Regions from separate parts of the Homo sapiens genome. Here region 1 is linked to region 2. Evidence: fine-mapped expression QTL. A gene starts in region 2. The other region holds a variant in brackets. All regions are shown on one strand. Distances are between the middles of the regions.

Evidence for each region.
Region 1: its variant is fine-mapped to the expression of ABCA10 in hippocampus (GTEx, PIP 0.99).

The regions. Positions count from the first base shown.
Region 1 is chr17:69,080,147-69,088,495 of GRCh38, forward strand. ABCA6 (ATP binding cassette subfamily A member 6) reads right to left here. Exons shown (of 39, transcript NM_080284.3): 28 at 8,021-8,112; 29 at 7,207-7,327; 30 at 6,472-6,589; 31 at 5,479-5,570; 32 at 4,882-5,036; 33 at 4,286-4,361; 34 at 4,115-4,209; 35 at 3,066-3,185; 36 at 2,727-2,867; 37 at 920-999. Among named protein-coding and RNA genes, the nearest start is that of MIR4524B, 15 kb to the right of the region's middle. The variant T/G (reference allele first, on the strand shown) is at 4,697.
Region 2 is chr17:69,224,134-69,232,482 of GRCh38, forward strand. It overlaps ABCA10 (ATP binding cassette subfamily A member 10), which reads right to left and starts at 4,691. Exons shown (of 39, transcript NM_001377321.1): 1 at 4,448-4,691; 2 at 3,012-3,152; 3 at 1,192-1,396. The coding sequence starts at 1,225.

The DNA of each region.
Region 1 (8,349 bases), 140 kb before region 2:
AAGGAACAAAGCAGAGATATATATTATGATATATATTATGTCAAACACAATGAGCTAGGCACTGTTCTAGGCACTTAAAATATTTACTCATTTAATCCTAACAACATGGCCAAGTGGGCACTAATAGTATCCATCATTGCAGAGACGAACCATCTAGATATGCAGGGATTGAGTACCTCACCCAACGTCACCCAGCTAGTAAGCAGCATGCCTGGGCTGAGAACCCAGAAAGATGGGCTCTAAAGTTTGAGCTCTTCACCATTATGCTGTGCTGAGAAATTACACCCAATGGTCTGCTGTTGGGAATGACGGGGTTGAAAGCAGAGAAAATGATGACAGGAGAGAGAGTGTGGACAATTACAACCAGCAAAAGGAGTTACACACAATGCAGGGGACGGTCAAAGCTATCATTCAAATAGGAAGGCCAAATACACCTGCACAGACACAAGGAGGTTGATGGATGGATGGAAACTTTCTCTGTTGCTTCTATTTTATTAGTGAAATATAAAGCAAGGGCATCAACTGAGGGATAAAAGTGGGAAGGAGGTGGATATGTAAGGAAAGAAAGGGAGTAAAGTAATAATTTGGGACACTTGGTGTGAATGGATTATATACATGTAGGCAAAGCAGGCCACACAGAGGGGCTTTTAGAGGGGGATGCCATGGTTTCACAGTAAGAACAGTTAAGCATGTGTGTTTCCTGCAGCTTCGGTCCCTGCACTGGAGATTAACCTCTTTTCACAGAGTCAGAGTAACCTAAATTGGGATTAAATCTCACCATTACCTACAGTTAGAATTCTTAAAAATCATGCCCTACAGCCCTATTTTAAAAAATTGTTACACAATTAGCTTCCATTAAATTATTATTTTAGTATTAGTTGATTCTTCAAAAGATTTATTTGAATGTGGTCACTCTTACCTGCTTCTAATTTGTGAAAGGTCTGTGATAGAGGGTAAACGTCTGCCACGGGCAGCTTATAGGTTAACAAAGAGGAATACCTGAAAACAGGAAGATGTCGTTTTCAGCTCTGAGTTTCAAGGGGAGAAAATGAGCATCAGAATAAATATTGATATTACCAACAATTTTCTTCTTAAAATAAAAGTAATGCAAATTAATGTATGGCTTAAATATGAAATCACAGCATTGTTTTGAATTGCTTTTTGGTATCTGGCTGTTGCAGACAGCTCTCCTGGTAATAACTCAGCATAATTATATATGTGCTCAGCTTATGCAAAACCTTTGCGTGTTGAAAATCAGGTATTCTGAACTATTCCCTTTGATTAGTTCGAATTAGGTTGGGAATTAACCCCAAAATAAATGTTCATCTTTGTCATCAGAAAGCTAATTCATTGTTTTGTTTTTTTTAATGAATGAATTTTTTCTTTATTTCTTACATTTCCAGCAATTTGCTTTACATTTACAATGGAAAATATAAACACTTAAACAAAAGTAAATTCAGGACTATTTTGTAAAACCATAAATAGTGGCAAATCTTGGAGATGGAGGTTGATATTGGCGAAAGATCTGTAAGGAAGACATATTTATTCTGAAGGCTTTTTCTAGGCCCTAGGGCAATCTAGAAGTAAGGAAATCAATAGAGCTTGGGCTGCCAACCAAAAAACCTCGGAATCTCCTTGATTCCCCCTCCTCCCAGAAGTCTAACTTGTAAAGAATAATATGAGGTTGGGAGAGTTGGAGATTGCAGTAGAGGAAGGACATAAAACACTTTAACAAAATACTTCCTGACCTCTAAGGAAGAGACGTAATTGATTTGGGGCATCTTGCTTCCGTGTGCTACTTCTGGCTGTAAACCCTCATGCCCTATTCCCAGCTTATTCCCAAACAGGGGTTTGGTGCTCCCAGGTGGCACTAAGGTTGACCAGATGTCCAAGATTGGCCCTTTTCAGACCAGCCACTGCTCTTTCTGTTTTATCATTTTTGATCTTCCCACCTATATCAGAACCACTTCTCTGATTTGTGACACCAAACGTCTGGGAATGGGACAAAGTTACATGTTCTGATATCTATCTTAGAAAATTTAATTACATTTACACTGTGCTAAAATAAAATAGTAGCTTTTATGTCCTATTTTTTGATGTACTTATCTCTCCACGGGAATTTCAAATTCAGTTTCTGCTCCACCTTCTTGCCCTCCCCCAAATAACATACAGACATACACAAACACACACACACACACACACACACACACACACACAGATATGTGGGCATGCACACACACATACACACATACCCCTTTCCACTCTCTATTTTAAGGTATGAAAATTCCATTAAAGAAAGACTCTTTGATTATCTCAATTGCCATTTGTTTCCTATGGGGAAAATTCACCCTAAATATTTACATCTTTTAAATTTTAAATATTTATATATGTTAAGCGTTTATGAGGAGGCCCAGGAAGGACACCATTGTGGTCCTGTGTGGGTTTGAGTCATTAGAAGTTCCTTCTCCCAAGTCTTTCCAAGTACCCCTCTGGAGCTGGGGATCAGCCTGGGATGGCCAAGGAGAGTGTGCCTGGTCTGCCCCAGGGGACACAGCTTCCTGGGTAGGTCTCAATCTCTTATAATCTGGAATACTGAACAAATCCTTTTCTGAGGTCCCTAACTTTTATTATGAAGCCAAATCACTATGAAGTTCTCACACAGCAAAAAGGAAACCACTGAGTGGATAAACCCTCCATATTTCTCCATAATCAAAAGCCCGTCTCACCTTTCCTGCCCTGCAGCCTGTGGGAAAAGCTTCAGAATCTCAGTGTGGACCAAAGTCACTTGAGACGTTTCCTTCACTTTTAGCTCTAGAATGTAATCCTTGCCAAGTTTGTTTTTCAGGTGTTGGATGGAGCCAATGCATCTATGGGCAAGAAAGAGAATATGTTGGAAAAAATATTGCCCTTAATTTTTTAATGTTATTCTTAAATTTCAAATGTAGAAGAAAAGGTGTCACCAAGGAAGCCAAACGGAAGGGCTCCAGCCACACACAGGGATTTTTGCCCTTTCCATGGGAAATCTCATTTTGAGCATCAAATGCAGGCTTCGGAGAGACACCCACCTAAGCCTTCCAGACACCATGATGGCCACACGGTCACACAAGGCTTCCGCCTCAGCCAGGTTATGGGTGGTCAGGAGGACACCTCTCTCTGTGTTTTTAACGACTGCCTGGATTGCCTGCCTGCAGTGAGCAAAAAAATTAACAGTATTTAAAATAACTAAGTGCAGAAGAAAAAAAAGATAAAATACAATATATGAATCATATTCAGATCCTAATGCAAAAAAATAGTGCAATGTAAGTACTGACTAGGTTTTTGATAACATAAATAACATTTTTAAGTATTTTTAGATGTGCTAATCATATTGTAGTTGAGTTATCTTCTGAAGATACTAACTGAAATATTTATAAATTAAAGAATATGTTGCTTTGTATTTCCTTCAAAATAATTGGAGGGTGGAGAAAGGAAGTGGGTGGAGATATAGATCAAAGGAGATTGGTTCTATTGATACCTGCTGAAACTTGTCCATGGGAATAATGGATTCATAAGCGATTCTCTACATTTGTATAAAATTACCATAACAAAGTTTTTGTTAAAGTTGGAAAAGTATCGGACAGTGACCAATATGAAACTAGATTGAAGATTTTATTATTCCAAAGGGTAAATCCTAGATGGGAAAAGTAAGTAAAAGAATAAACCCGAGAAAAACTGGAGGAACAAATTTGACAGGTCACATTAAAAAGGAAAAAAAACAAACAGGAAAATTGTGTCAGGAAGTTAATAGTCTCCCAGGAAACAAAGTAGAAGGGAAAAAAGAAGAAACAGTTATAGACATCTCAATAATTAAAAGGCAAAATATTTTTGTATTTTAACAGTCCACATTAAAAACCTAAAACCCCAAGAAAATGTTGGGTCTTTTTAACCTGAATACCACGTGAACATCATGCAGATTAGATCATCTACTGGTTAAATATTTGTTTTCCTGATAATATAAATTATTTCCACTGAATCAGGAACTAGTGGGTTTGAGGGCTGATTTTCCAAGACCAGTTAAAATATGCAACCTTCCCTAATGTGCATGCTCGCAGCTCTGGGGTATAATGATGCTCACCACATTTGCTGCTGCCCTGTGGGGTCTATGCCCGTAGATGGTTCATCCAGGAGCAAGACAGGTGAGTTTCCCAGGAGGCTCAGCACAAAACACAACTGCAATGTAGAAAAACACCCCTGTTTGCTGCCATACCACACCAGCTCTCCATAGAGCATCACACACCGCACGTACCTTTCTCGTGATTCCTGCTGTTAATTTCTGCACAGGAACATTCAGCTGCTCATGCAGTTTGAAAGCACTCACTAATCTGACAGAAAACAGAATGAGAATATCTGGTCAAGACAAGGTTTTTGGAAAATCCAAGCACACAGAACAGTAACAGCATTAGAGGGAAGTTTAGTAATATTATTGTCAAAATCCTAACTCATAATTTTAAAAAAGAGATTGGTTTATTTTGGAACATGAAAGACTTTTTTTTTTTTTTGCCTCATAAACAGTTTTAGGAAAAACTAGAATTCTGAATGAGAAACTGACAATGGATGATTATTTCATTTCCAGGTTTTTTAAATTAGAAAACTGAAATGGATGACGATTCATGGTGATTCGTTCACTTATTCCTTGTCAATTATTTTATATAATCAT[T/G]TTTTAAAGATCTCTCATTCAGGGATGCAGGAAGTCAGGTCTTGTCCCTCATCCCTGCTCTGCCACTGACACTCTGGAAAGGTGGAGATAGCATATTGACTCTCGGTTCTTTATTAGTGAATTCATCATCAGTGCTACAGTCTCCCTGCATTCTGACACAAAGGAATCGCAGGTCCCGTCTGTACCTTGCGATGGCGAGCCTCGCGTCCGCTTTCCTGAGCCCCTTGACGGCAGCATACACCTCCAGGTGTTCCCTCAACGTCAGCATGGGCCACAGCACGTTCTCTTGAGGGCAGTACCCCAGGTGGCCCAAAACTGAACTGCAGCCTTTCAGTTCCACCTAAAAAAATAAAAGAGCTTTAGAAAGGCATGCAGCCTTTATTCCAATAGCGTAATTACTCCAGAAACTGACATATATAAGCGTCTAAATTGTTTAAGCATCAAATAAATACTATAGAAATTACTTCATATATTTATTACAGAAAATGATTTAAAGTACAAATATAAAAATATAGTTTTACATGCAGAGAAGAAAAGAGACCTAATAAGCTCAGGTAGTTCTTGAGAAACTGATGAGTAAAAGGTAATTGGTTTCTGGTAAGATTCCAAGTCCTGTTATAAACACCTGATGCCCAGTAAAAATTTAAAGAGGGGAAAAATAAAATTTATCCAAAGGCAAAAAAAAAAAAAAAAGAAAAGAAAAATAGTATAGTCTTACAAAGATATAATCTATACGTATCATGAAATTCCTGTTTTGGAAATGGAAACCATTTCCTCACTACCTCTCCAGCAGTTGGCTTTGTGATCCCAGATATCATTCTAATAGATGAACTTTTTCCAGCACCATTGGGTCCTAGCAATCCCAAAATTTCACCTGAAAGAAAGAATCAGACTATCAATATTGGAAGTGAAATACTGAACAACATAAACCTTTTGCTCCAGTGAAATCTTCTGAGATTTCTGCACCCTTCAGTTAGTACCATTTTGAGATTGATAACATATATGTAATCCACGTCACCAAAGCATGTTCTTTATTTTCTGTAATTATGCCAAATGTTACTGCAAAGCTAATGAATTTGATGTCAATACATCTGTCCTTTTCCCCCCAGATTACTTGTTTCAGTTGGAAATGTGTCCAACTGTTTTCCGTAATAGATGGCCGATGCACTGAGTACATGTATGAATGATTCTCAAACTTGAGAAGTTAGGGATATTTTCTTCATCCCAAATTCAACCACCTCTGTCCAAGTTACCATCATCTTTCATCCCAACTGATATAAAAGCCTCTGAACTTGTCCCCCCCAACCCAAACTGACAAACAAACAATAGCCAATCTGTAATCTTTTCAAAATATAAATTAAATATGACACAAGTCCGCTAAAAACTCTCCAATGGTATTATGCTAACTTGTATAAAACACAAACTCATTGCTGTTTTCAAAAGCTGTACCTAATCTGGCGCTGCTCAGCTCTATAGCTTTATCCCTTCCATTTATGGATGCATTCACTGGCCTCTTGGCTAGAGACACAACGTTTCCAAATGTGTCTGAGTCCCTGCCCTCACTGTTTCCTCTACCTGGATGCTCTTTGTCTAGTGGCTTCATAATTGTATTTCCAGAGTCTAAAACACTCCCTGGCACACTAAATATATATATATATATATATATATAGAATAAATGAATGAATGCTTCAGCGAGTAAAACTGTGCCTATGACATAGATGTTCGGTAGGTAGTTCTAAAAGTAATGGTAAGTTTTAAAAGGGATTATTACAGACCTTCTTGAACACAGAAAGAGATATTTCTTGCTGCTATTTTCTTCTTCCTCTTTGAAAAGCAACTTTTCTTCTGGCCTGCATATTCTTTGTGTAGACAGCTGGCAATTATAACAGGTTTCTAGAAGAGATGACAGCATGATTTTCCTCTTAAATTTCAGAGACTTTAGGTCTCTGCTGGAACCTTTCATGCCTTATGTCATAAGCCAAACCATATTTTGAGTTGAGAGTAATTCATGCTGCTAAATGTAATATGCATTCATTAATGTAGAAAATATTTCTTGCTTCTAAATAGACTGAGTTTCATGGAAGCAGCTTATTGTCTTGCCAGAAGAGGGGTGGCTAACCTCATGGAACCATCACATCTAAGTCAAATAGAGTAAACCTTAAAATCTTAATCTCTATTTAGCATTCTTCGCATTCTTCGACAAATCTAACTTAAATTATTTAACTCATGAGGTCTTGTTGGTTTTGCAATTATAGCCCTAATTATGAAAGCCCACTTTTCTCAAAAGAAAAATTAAAACCATTAGGTTTTGTGTTCTTTTTAGCTTCTAGGACACTCTGAATAAGCGGAGTGCCTTGATTATGCAGATACTTCTTTGGAGTGTCCTGGACGCATAATACAGAAATGCACCAAACTCCAAACTCTCAAAATGAAACCCAGTGTATCAAATCCTGCTCTTGACAGTTCTTGAATATCTCCATTAATATCCATTTTGCCCCTTGCTTTTTTACCTCATCTAAGATTGAAGTGGTCAGAGCAGTGGCTGTTCTTATTCTTTCTGTTTGAATATCTTCATCTTCATCTATGGGTTCTTCTGGATTTGGCTTAGCATCTCTACTTTGGGGGGAAATTCTATGGAGAAAATGAAATGTGTTACATGTGGTATTCTAGCTGTTAAAAGATGTGTCAAAAATCAGCATTCCTGTGATTTTACTACTGTCCTCTTCTCTAATGTGCAGGTGATGATGTGATGATGACTGTCAATATTGCTTCTGCTTTTGCCAAGAACTCCTGTCCCACTAGCCAGAATCCTTTTCTTAATGTTGTTGCCATTCTTCTGGTAAGAATCTTTGACCCTTTCAAATCTGTCAGCAGGTACTGCTCCTTTCTCTTTAAAATTCATGTCACTCTCATTTTCTCTACTCAGTCTGAGCTCATCTTCATCACACCAGATGTTTTTTCAACATCATTTACTGCTCACCCTTTCTACAGCCCTCCATTTTTAAAACACTCAACTATGTTGCTAAATCGATTCCTTCCCATCTTTTCTTTTCAAGGATGCACAATTATCTCAGACGAGAGAATGGCATATTTGGGTCCTTATTAAATTTTGGATGGAGTGAAGGTTTCTTACAGCTGCTTACAGCCAGAACTCTGCCTGGGAGTTCTATCTCTTGGCAGTAAGGCAGCAATCCACATTCCCTAATGACAATCAACATGTGCTTCCACTGTAAATGTAAATCTGTATTAACAAGATGATAGCACAGACACCATCTAGGAATGTTAAAATATGATATTAAGTATAAAGTTAAATTTCACCCCAACCTGAAAACAGGATCTTTTCGCATTCTTTTCTTTCCACATTTTAGTTCCATGCATCTTAGAACAAAAACGAATAGCAAAGTCTGAAAGTAGGGCTATGAGCAAAGAAATACAGTTATATTTAGGCATAAGTTCACAAATATTATTTAAATATTTGAATTAAGTTGGTGGTGTTTTGTCTTTGGGTAAATAGTTGTGGATCATTCTCATAAGCTGGGGGAGAAATGTAGCTATACATTCACAATCCAGGTTAGTGAAACCTGTTTCCTTTCTTCTCGCCACCCATATTCAGTTTGTAAGTAAATTCTATCTACTCTATCTTCAAAATTATC
Region 2 (8,349 bases):
AGCCAGGGATAACAATACCCATTCGAAAGCTTGGATAGGTTAGGCACAGAATATTAGCAACTCACATAAAATAATTAAAATTCAGAGTTTGGAGGTGTCCCTTGGCATGGCAATCCAGACACCAAAAAACTAAATAAAAGTTTCAGAAAGACAAGAAAAAGCAGTGATTAGAGCTGAGACGTTAACAGATTGGATAAAATGTACAAAAGGATGAAATGGCCAATGTTCAGAACCCTGGCAGAATGAGGGCTAACAACAAGAGAAATTTGATAGTAGGCTAAGATTGCTGAAGAAAAGAACATTTTATCCTGATACTTTCCCTATGCAGGAGCAAAGGCCTCTATGGAGAGTCCAGAGACCACAGCTGACCACCAATAGTTACTCCTAATGGCAGTAGAGATATAAAGGATGGTAGGCAAAGGTCTCACATAGTAAGTAGGACTCTCAGGTGTTCTTATTTCTTTATGAGATGCATACATCAAATTAATGCAGCATCCTACATAACATAGAGACATCTATTTTCTGAGTCCAGATATGCAGAAAAAGTCTTATGGGAAAAAAAAAAAAAAAGCCTCACTACTCTAAGATCAAGGGCTGTGAATTTGTTGACTTTCAGTAGCCAATACCTGATTTGATTTTAAATAATTTTAAATGCCCTGAGCTGTACATTTTAACTATTTTTATACACCAAACAGTAATGCTTTTTCAACACCATTGCTAAGCTTGAGTTTGAATTTCAAACACCTTTGATTTATAATTCCTATATACTGGGAACTATATTTATTTCAATCTCAATTGAAAATAATTAAATCCTTAAAATTTTTTGAAACTCTTTAAATTATAGAATACCAACCCAAATATAAAGTTTTTTAAGTTAAGTTTTGGAAAAGTGAAATTTGTATCATCTAAAATGGGTCCAATCTTTTTTTCCTACTGCAACAATATGTTCTAGTATAAAGGGCAAACGGTATGCATATCATTAAAAACAAACAAACAAACAAAAGTAAATCATTTCATCTGTTGCCCACCTACCCTTAGCTTCACACCAACCCCTGTACTGCATATATAATGAGAATCTTTGCCTCAGTTGAGAATCACTGACACACAGGCTAGGTAAGTAAATTCAACCTGCAAAAAGAACTTGAAAATTAAGTCACATAATACTGAAACATTGGTTATTGGACAACACACCTTTCATAAAGGAAGCCAAGGCCATCTTATTCATTATCCTTTGTGTTATGTTACTGACTGGTGTATATGCCACTACCAGGCCAGAGTCATTAAACTGATCCACGCTTCCCAGGACTTTAGGAGGTTGTTCAGGAAAACGGGTAGCTCTGAAGTGTTCCGAAAAGATGCACAAATATAGCCCTAGAAACAATGTTATTGTCCATTCCTCCAGCACACAAAAGAGAAATGAGCCATGTTATAACGTGGTCCAGACCAGTGAGAAACATCCAAACACATTTTTAAGGCAGAATGTATTGCCATTGAGCATGACTTCATTTCAGTCTGTAATTTTTTTCTGCCCAAATTAATATCTACCTTTTAAAGAAAAAAACACCCTTTCAAAAATACACAACTTTTGAGATAATATCAACAATTGCAATCAATCTTAACCCAGTGATTTAGCACCCCTATTAGTGGGACTGCCATTGATTTTATGCCCTCATATTTGAAGCAACGTAAGTATATGGCATCACACAGAAGATACTCTTGCCAAAAATATTTAACCAGAATTGGATCCTGCTTTTAGATCCAGCTCACTGCTTACAAAAAATATAGATGATAAAGGGATGACTTAAATGACAGCATGGAGAGGCAATCAGATAAAAAGAGAACATGGAATATTCAACAGGATAACTAGTTTTGTCTCATTGGTTCCTGAACAAATCAACCTTAAAAGACATTTTGGGGGAAATTTGGAAAATTGAATTTGGCCATGGAACTAGATGATATGGAATTATTTTTAATTTTGTGTAGTGGGATAGTGGTAATGTAGGGAACCAAGTTCTTAATTTTTTGAGATACTAAAATATTTAGCCATTACATATATTTTAGGGAAGAAGAGGAGACAGAGAGATGAAGCAAAGATGGCAAGATGTTAACAGCTGTCAAATCTGGATGGTGGATGTATAGGTGTTCATTGTACCAATATTTTCACATTTCTGGATTGACATACTTTTTTTAAATTCTAGTGAGTAATAAATATAGATGTATCCTTCTTCAATATACGAAGCAAAATATTTGATCGAACTGCTTCGGAAGCTATTGCAGAAATTTAAAAGGATGATATAAATCCTGTTAGCTCCCACTGAAATGGTACTGACTATTTCTGAACAGACTGCAATCTCTACATGGTCAAGGCAGATCCAGTTATATCTCATAGTAACACAAAGCAATGTCTTAATATTCATGTCAGCATACAAGAAACTCAACAGAATGCAAAGGTATTGACAATCTGTGATCTTATTCCATGAAACCATTCTATGTTTACAAAAAGCACGGCTTTGAAGAGATTCCAAAAAAGTTTGCAGATTTTTACTCATAGATATTTTCCCAGCCTTACCAAATAACATGACATTAATCGAAATGTCCCCAAATAGTATCAGGGTTTGCCCACGTAAAAATCTATTTTATTTTGCCTAGCTTATCTTTCCCCTGGCTGTCCCTGCCCCCAACACAGAAGTTAGCTAAGAGTAAATCAGAATGACTCTGAGATTTGAATGCATTAATTATGTGGAAAATGGCTGGTTCTATTCTGCAAAAGATTATTTTTCAGGAGCTGTCAGATGAGCTTTTTAGTTAATTTCACATTTGACACAAATATTATCCTATTTTGCAAAATATATATCGTTTTGCAGTATTTAGAATCTCAAATCAACTAGCCAGTATGATAATTAAAAATCAGAATTTATAAACAAGAAAAGTAATAAAAATGGCATAATACTATATGGTGGATTTTCATTTATTAATTATGGATATATATATATATATATAGTGAATCATACCAATAAACTCTCTTTTTATTCTCCATTTTTTAAGAAAATTCTTGTACAGAAGAGCCTGAATTTGTTGACGCACGCTTATCTCTTTTTTAACCATTTTGTCCTGTTCATTAACAGGGTAAAGTAAATATTGCAGAGCAATAGCTAGGGGAAAAAAGAAAAAAAAAAAGTTCAGTTACAGAAAGCCTTTGAACATTTTGAAAGCATAATTTTCAGATGTGCCAACTAAATGCCTTATATGACACTGTAGCAACATATTCAATCAGGATTTTAAAAAAGAATATAAAGTATTAGTAATTATAAAATGTCTTCTCAGTTGTTATTTCTCTCCAGGCTTTTATGGCTATGAGGGAGATAAAGGAGATAGTATATAAGACCTTTCTCCTTTTGTCTCAGAAGTCACTTTTTTTCCATGAAATCTTAACATTACATCCACCTAAAGTAAATCCCTCAATAAGATCTTAGTAATTTTTAGAATCCAAAAAACACTTTCTCTTTACTTGTTAAGAAAAAGAAGTTTAACAGGAAGAAACCACTTTGCAGTTCCTTGTCAGTCAGCAATTTGACCACAAGCTGTCTTATTTTGAATTGCACATCTGGGCACATGTATTTGATATCTTGTTAACCACTGGGCAAAGCAAAGTCGAAAACATTACGGCCATTCTTAGAATCCCAAAAAGCTAATTCCTCTTTTTTAAATCTCCATTTATGAAGTAAATATGTAAGATACATACAGATTAAAACCAAAAATATTGGCTAATATGACTAGAGTAATTGATTTGTAATAATGATCCTTATTCTTTGTTTTCAATTTGAAAATCCAGAGCTGATCATTTGGTGTCACAACTATGACTACTGAAGTCCATTTGAATAAATGTTGATATTATATACAAATTACAATGTTCAGAGAGAACTTGCTATATTTCCCCTTTTTCATAAAATAAAAGGCAAAGCCAGCAAAACCCAATATAATCTCTAAATTCTAACTTAAGAAAGTAGAAACATTAAAACACCAATCTTCACTTTATGGATACAGAGGTCTACTTAAACAGCTCCATAAGCAAACCACAAAAACATTTTAAAAGAACAAAAGAACACAGAAAAAAGGAACTTGCCCTAATGCTCACACATTCTAAAGAAGTAAAACCATACAAATTCTCAAAAGGATATTCAAAGCAGTGTCAGAGAGAGAATTTATTGTCTGATAATATTTATATACACCTCTGAATCTAGCCATCTTTCATTTATCACACTAAAATGTTACATAAGTTTTTAAAATAAAATAACTCACTAGTACTATAACATAAAGCATAAAATAATTTAGAGCATCTGAATAATATAATTTTAAAAATTTCAATCAATATGTTTGGCTTTGGCTATATACTTTATATCTTTAAAACCTTATGCAAAGTGAAAATGTAAAACAAATTTTAACTTACAGTTAAGAAAATAAGAGAGAAGTATTTGAAGCACTTGGATCCACTGGTCTCTTTTTGTCCAAGAAAACAATGAAGAATCCTTCAAGGACTCCTCTACAAATGGTTGCCTCTTTTAAAACTGTTTTGATTCAGCTTGGCTTCTGAAAAGCCATGGTCTGTGTGTAGAACATGCCAACAAATTCTGTTGGTTTTTTCCCTATGTTTTTCTCCTTGTCCAGTTACTCTTCAGAGAGTGTAATGAATTGTTGGCTGAGCGCATCATTGGTATTTGTTTATTGCTCTTTTTGGCATACACACAAAAAAAGAGATCAAATTCAAAAAGAAAAACCCACATATTTACAATTGCATGGATAACTACATATTTACAATTGCATGACTTTTAATAATTAAAAATTTGACAGCCAAGCTAAAAAAGGAGCAAATTAAAGATAAAGTTGAACAGAGAGAGAGAAAATGAGGATTGCTCATCTCAGAAATCTGAATCATTCCAATGAGAAAGTTTCATCTGAAAGTTAACTGCATTTCAGTTAAATGGTTCCTTGTATTCACTAATTCCTATGTACTAGAAAGTGTTCTAAGGGTTTAAATGAATTCTCCCATTTGATACTCAAAGCAAACCTACAAAGTTGGTACTCTACTCACATCCATTAAACAAATTTGAAAGGTGGGGCTAACAGGTGAAGTTATTTGCAGATGTTTAAATAAGTGTGAAGCCAACAGATGAGTCCAGAATAGTATCTGGACTCCAAGATCCCTCACTCTTAACTACCACTATGAAAATGGTGCTAATCAAGACAATGATATCTGATACCCATTTAAAAAGTGTAGTGGTATAGACTAGATGGCATAACTTTAATGATTTTGTTACTTTTTTTTCAGCTACAACTAAATTGGATATTCTCAGAATGGCAAATAATGCCTCTTTATCAACCCTGAAAATCTTTTTATGTGATTTTAACTATAATAATACACTTCTTGGTATGCATACAGAAGCTAATGCCCATTCATGAAAGTGACAGAGACAGAAAGGGTAAAGGACTCAGAGACTCTTCAAATGATTACCATTTTCATTAGGAATATGGAAATAAATGGTTCCTTTAATTGTAAATGTCACTAACAACAAAGGAAGCATACTTTAATTGCTTTCCTTTGTTGTTAGTGACATTTCTCTTCCTATTCAGGCAAAATCATTACTAGAAGTAAAAGTTCATGAAATAGAAAACATGAAACTTAACCTGGTTCCGATCCCAGACATTAATGGTAATATTCACTTAAATGGGTGGGGAAAACAATTAAAATCATACTATAATACAGACATACACCCTTCTTAATCACCAAATTTTTAAAATATTTTTTATTTCCATAATTGCTGTGATTTGAATGTCTCCTCTAAAATTCATGTTAAAATTTAATTACCAATGAAACAGCATTGAGAAGTGTAGCCTTTAGAAGTGGTGATTAGGTCATGAGGGCTCCACCCTCATAAATGGATTAACACTATTATCTTGGGAATGGGCTCCTGATAAAAGGATGAGTTAGGCCCAATTCTCTCTCTCTCTGTCTCATGCACATGCTTCCACCTTTCACCTTTCCACTGTGGGATGACCCTCACCAGATATCAGTGCCATGCTCTTGGACTTCTCGGCTTCCAGAACTGTGAGAAATAAGTTTCTTTTCTTTATAAATTACCCAGTCTGCTGGGTACAACTAAATCTGTGGTGTTCTGTTATAGCAATAAAAAACAAGCTAAGACAATAATTTTAGGGATTTCAATCTCCAATACGGTACAGTTGGGAGTCTGAGACCTGCATTGCAGACTTGTCACTCATTGTCTGTGTCCCTTGGAGAGGTCATATAAAATCCTCAGGTCTCTGTTACACATTTATAATAGGATTTGGACCCTTTTCATTCTTAGCCTTTACATATTTATAATTATACAGTTCTGCTACAGAGTCAGAATGTTGAAATACTCCAGATTTAGGCTTATGCACATCCACGTTACATAATACCAACTAGCACCTCCTCATCAAACTCTTCCTTACTCTTGAGTCCTTGACCCCTGAAAGCACGATGGCTTTCAGCAGGTAAATGTACTATATTAATGAACAATCAGAGGCAATTTGGCAGAAGTTTTCCTCCACATACCTCTATTTCATTCTAATTTCCCAGAGGAAACTCAGCCAATTTTTTCTAAACTCAACACCACTGCAGAATCCTTCGATCAAATTCTATTACCTAATCTAAAAATCTAGCTCTCTTGGTTATCTCTTTTTATTTTATTGTTAATTTCTATTACAATCTCTTCTCTCCTTCCATCTTTCTTTACATATGACTGGCAATTACATATGAGAAAATATTGTCACTGCCAGCTTTCTTAAGCTACCTTATCTTATAAAATATCTTATAAACTAGCTCATCTTCTTACATTCCCTGCCCAAATTTCCATTGTATTAGTTTCCTAGGGCTGCCATAACAAAGTACCACAAACTGGGTACCTTAGAAATTGATTTGCTCAAAGTGTCAGAGTCCGGAAGTCCAAAAATCATTGTCCTATCTGAAAAGCCATGCTCTCTCTCCCAGCTTCTGGTGATTGCCAGCAACCCTTGTCATTCCTTGACTTGCAGATACGTAACTCTAATATCTGTGTTGTCATTACGTGGCATTCTCTCTTCTATGTGCCTGTGTCTTCAAATGGCATTCTCCTGTGTATTTGTCTCTTTCATTCTACTAATTTTGAGTTAGTTTGCTCCTGTTATTCTAGTTTCTTGAGTTGCCATGTTAGGTTATTTGAGATCTTTCTACTTTTTTGATGTAGGCAAGTATTGCTATAAACTTCCCTCTTAAAACTGCTTTTGCTGTATCCCTTTGGTTCTAGTATATCATGTTCCCCCTTTTTGACTCAAGAATGTTCTAAATATTTTCCTTTTTAATTGCTCCATTGACCCATTAGTGGCTCATGAGGATGTTGTTTAATGTCCGTGTATTTGTACCATTTCCAATGTTCCTCCTGTTATTGATTTCTAGTTTTATTCCATTGTGGTCAGAAAAGCTACTTGATGTAATTTTGATTCTTTTAAACTTGATGAGACTTGTTCTGTGGCCTAACATATGACCTTTCCTGGAGAATATTCCATGTGCTGTTGAGAAGAATGTGTATTCTGCAGCTGTTGGACAGAATGTTTTATAAATGTCTGTTATATCCATCTGGTCTAATATGTGGTTTAATTATAATGTTTCTTTGGGATTTTCTGTCTGGATGATCTGTCTATTCCAGTTCCTTACAATTATTTATTGCAGTATATTTGTCCTTTTAGATCTATTTATATTTGCTTTATATATTTCGGTACTCTTATGTTGAGTACATATGTATTTATAATTATTATATCCTGTTGCTGTACTGGCCTCTTTATCATTATATAATGGCTTTATCTCATTTTAAAGTTTTGGTTATTTTATCAGATATAAGTATAGCTACTCCTACTCTTTTTTTTGTTTCTATGTGCATAAAATATCTTTTTCCATCTCTTCATTTTCAATCTATGTGTCTCTTTACAAGTGTAGTGAGTCTTTTGTAGGCAGCAGATAGTTGGGTCTTGTTTTTTATTCAATCAGCCACTTTATGTCTTTTGATTGAAGAATGTATTTCATTTATATTCAAGTTAATTATTGATAGATGAGGGCTTACTGCTGCCATTTTGATACCTGTTTTCTAGTTGTTTTGTGGACCCTTTCTTCTCTTACAATCTTCCTTTGTGTGTAAATGATTTTCTCTAGTAGTGTTTTGATTTCTTGCTTTGTATTTTTAATATATCTATTATAGGTTTTTGCTTTGTGGTTACCGTAAGGCTGACAAAAAAACATCTAACAAGTTATTTTAAAATAACTTAACTTTGATAGCAAAG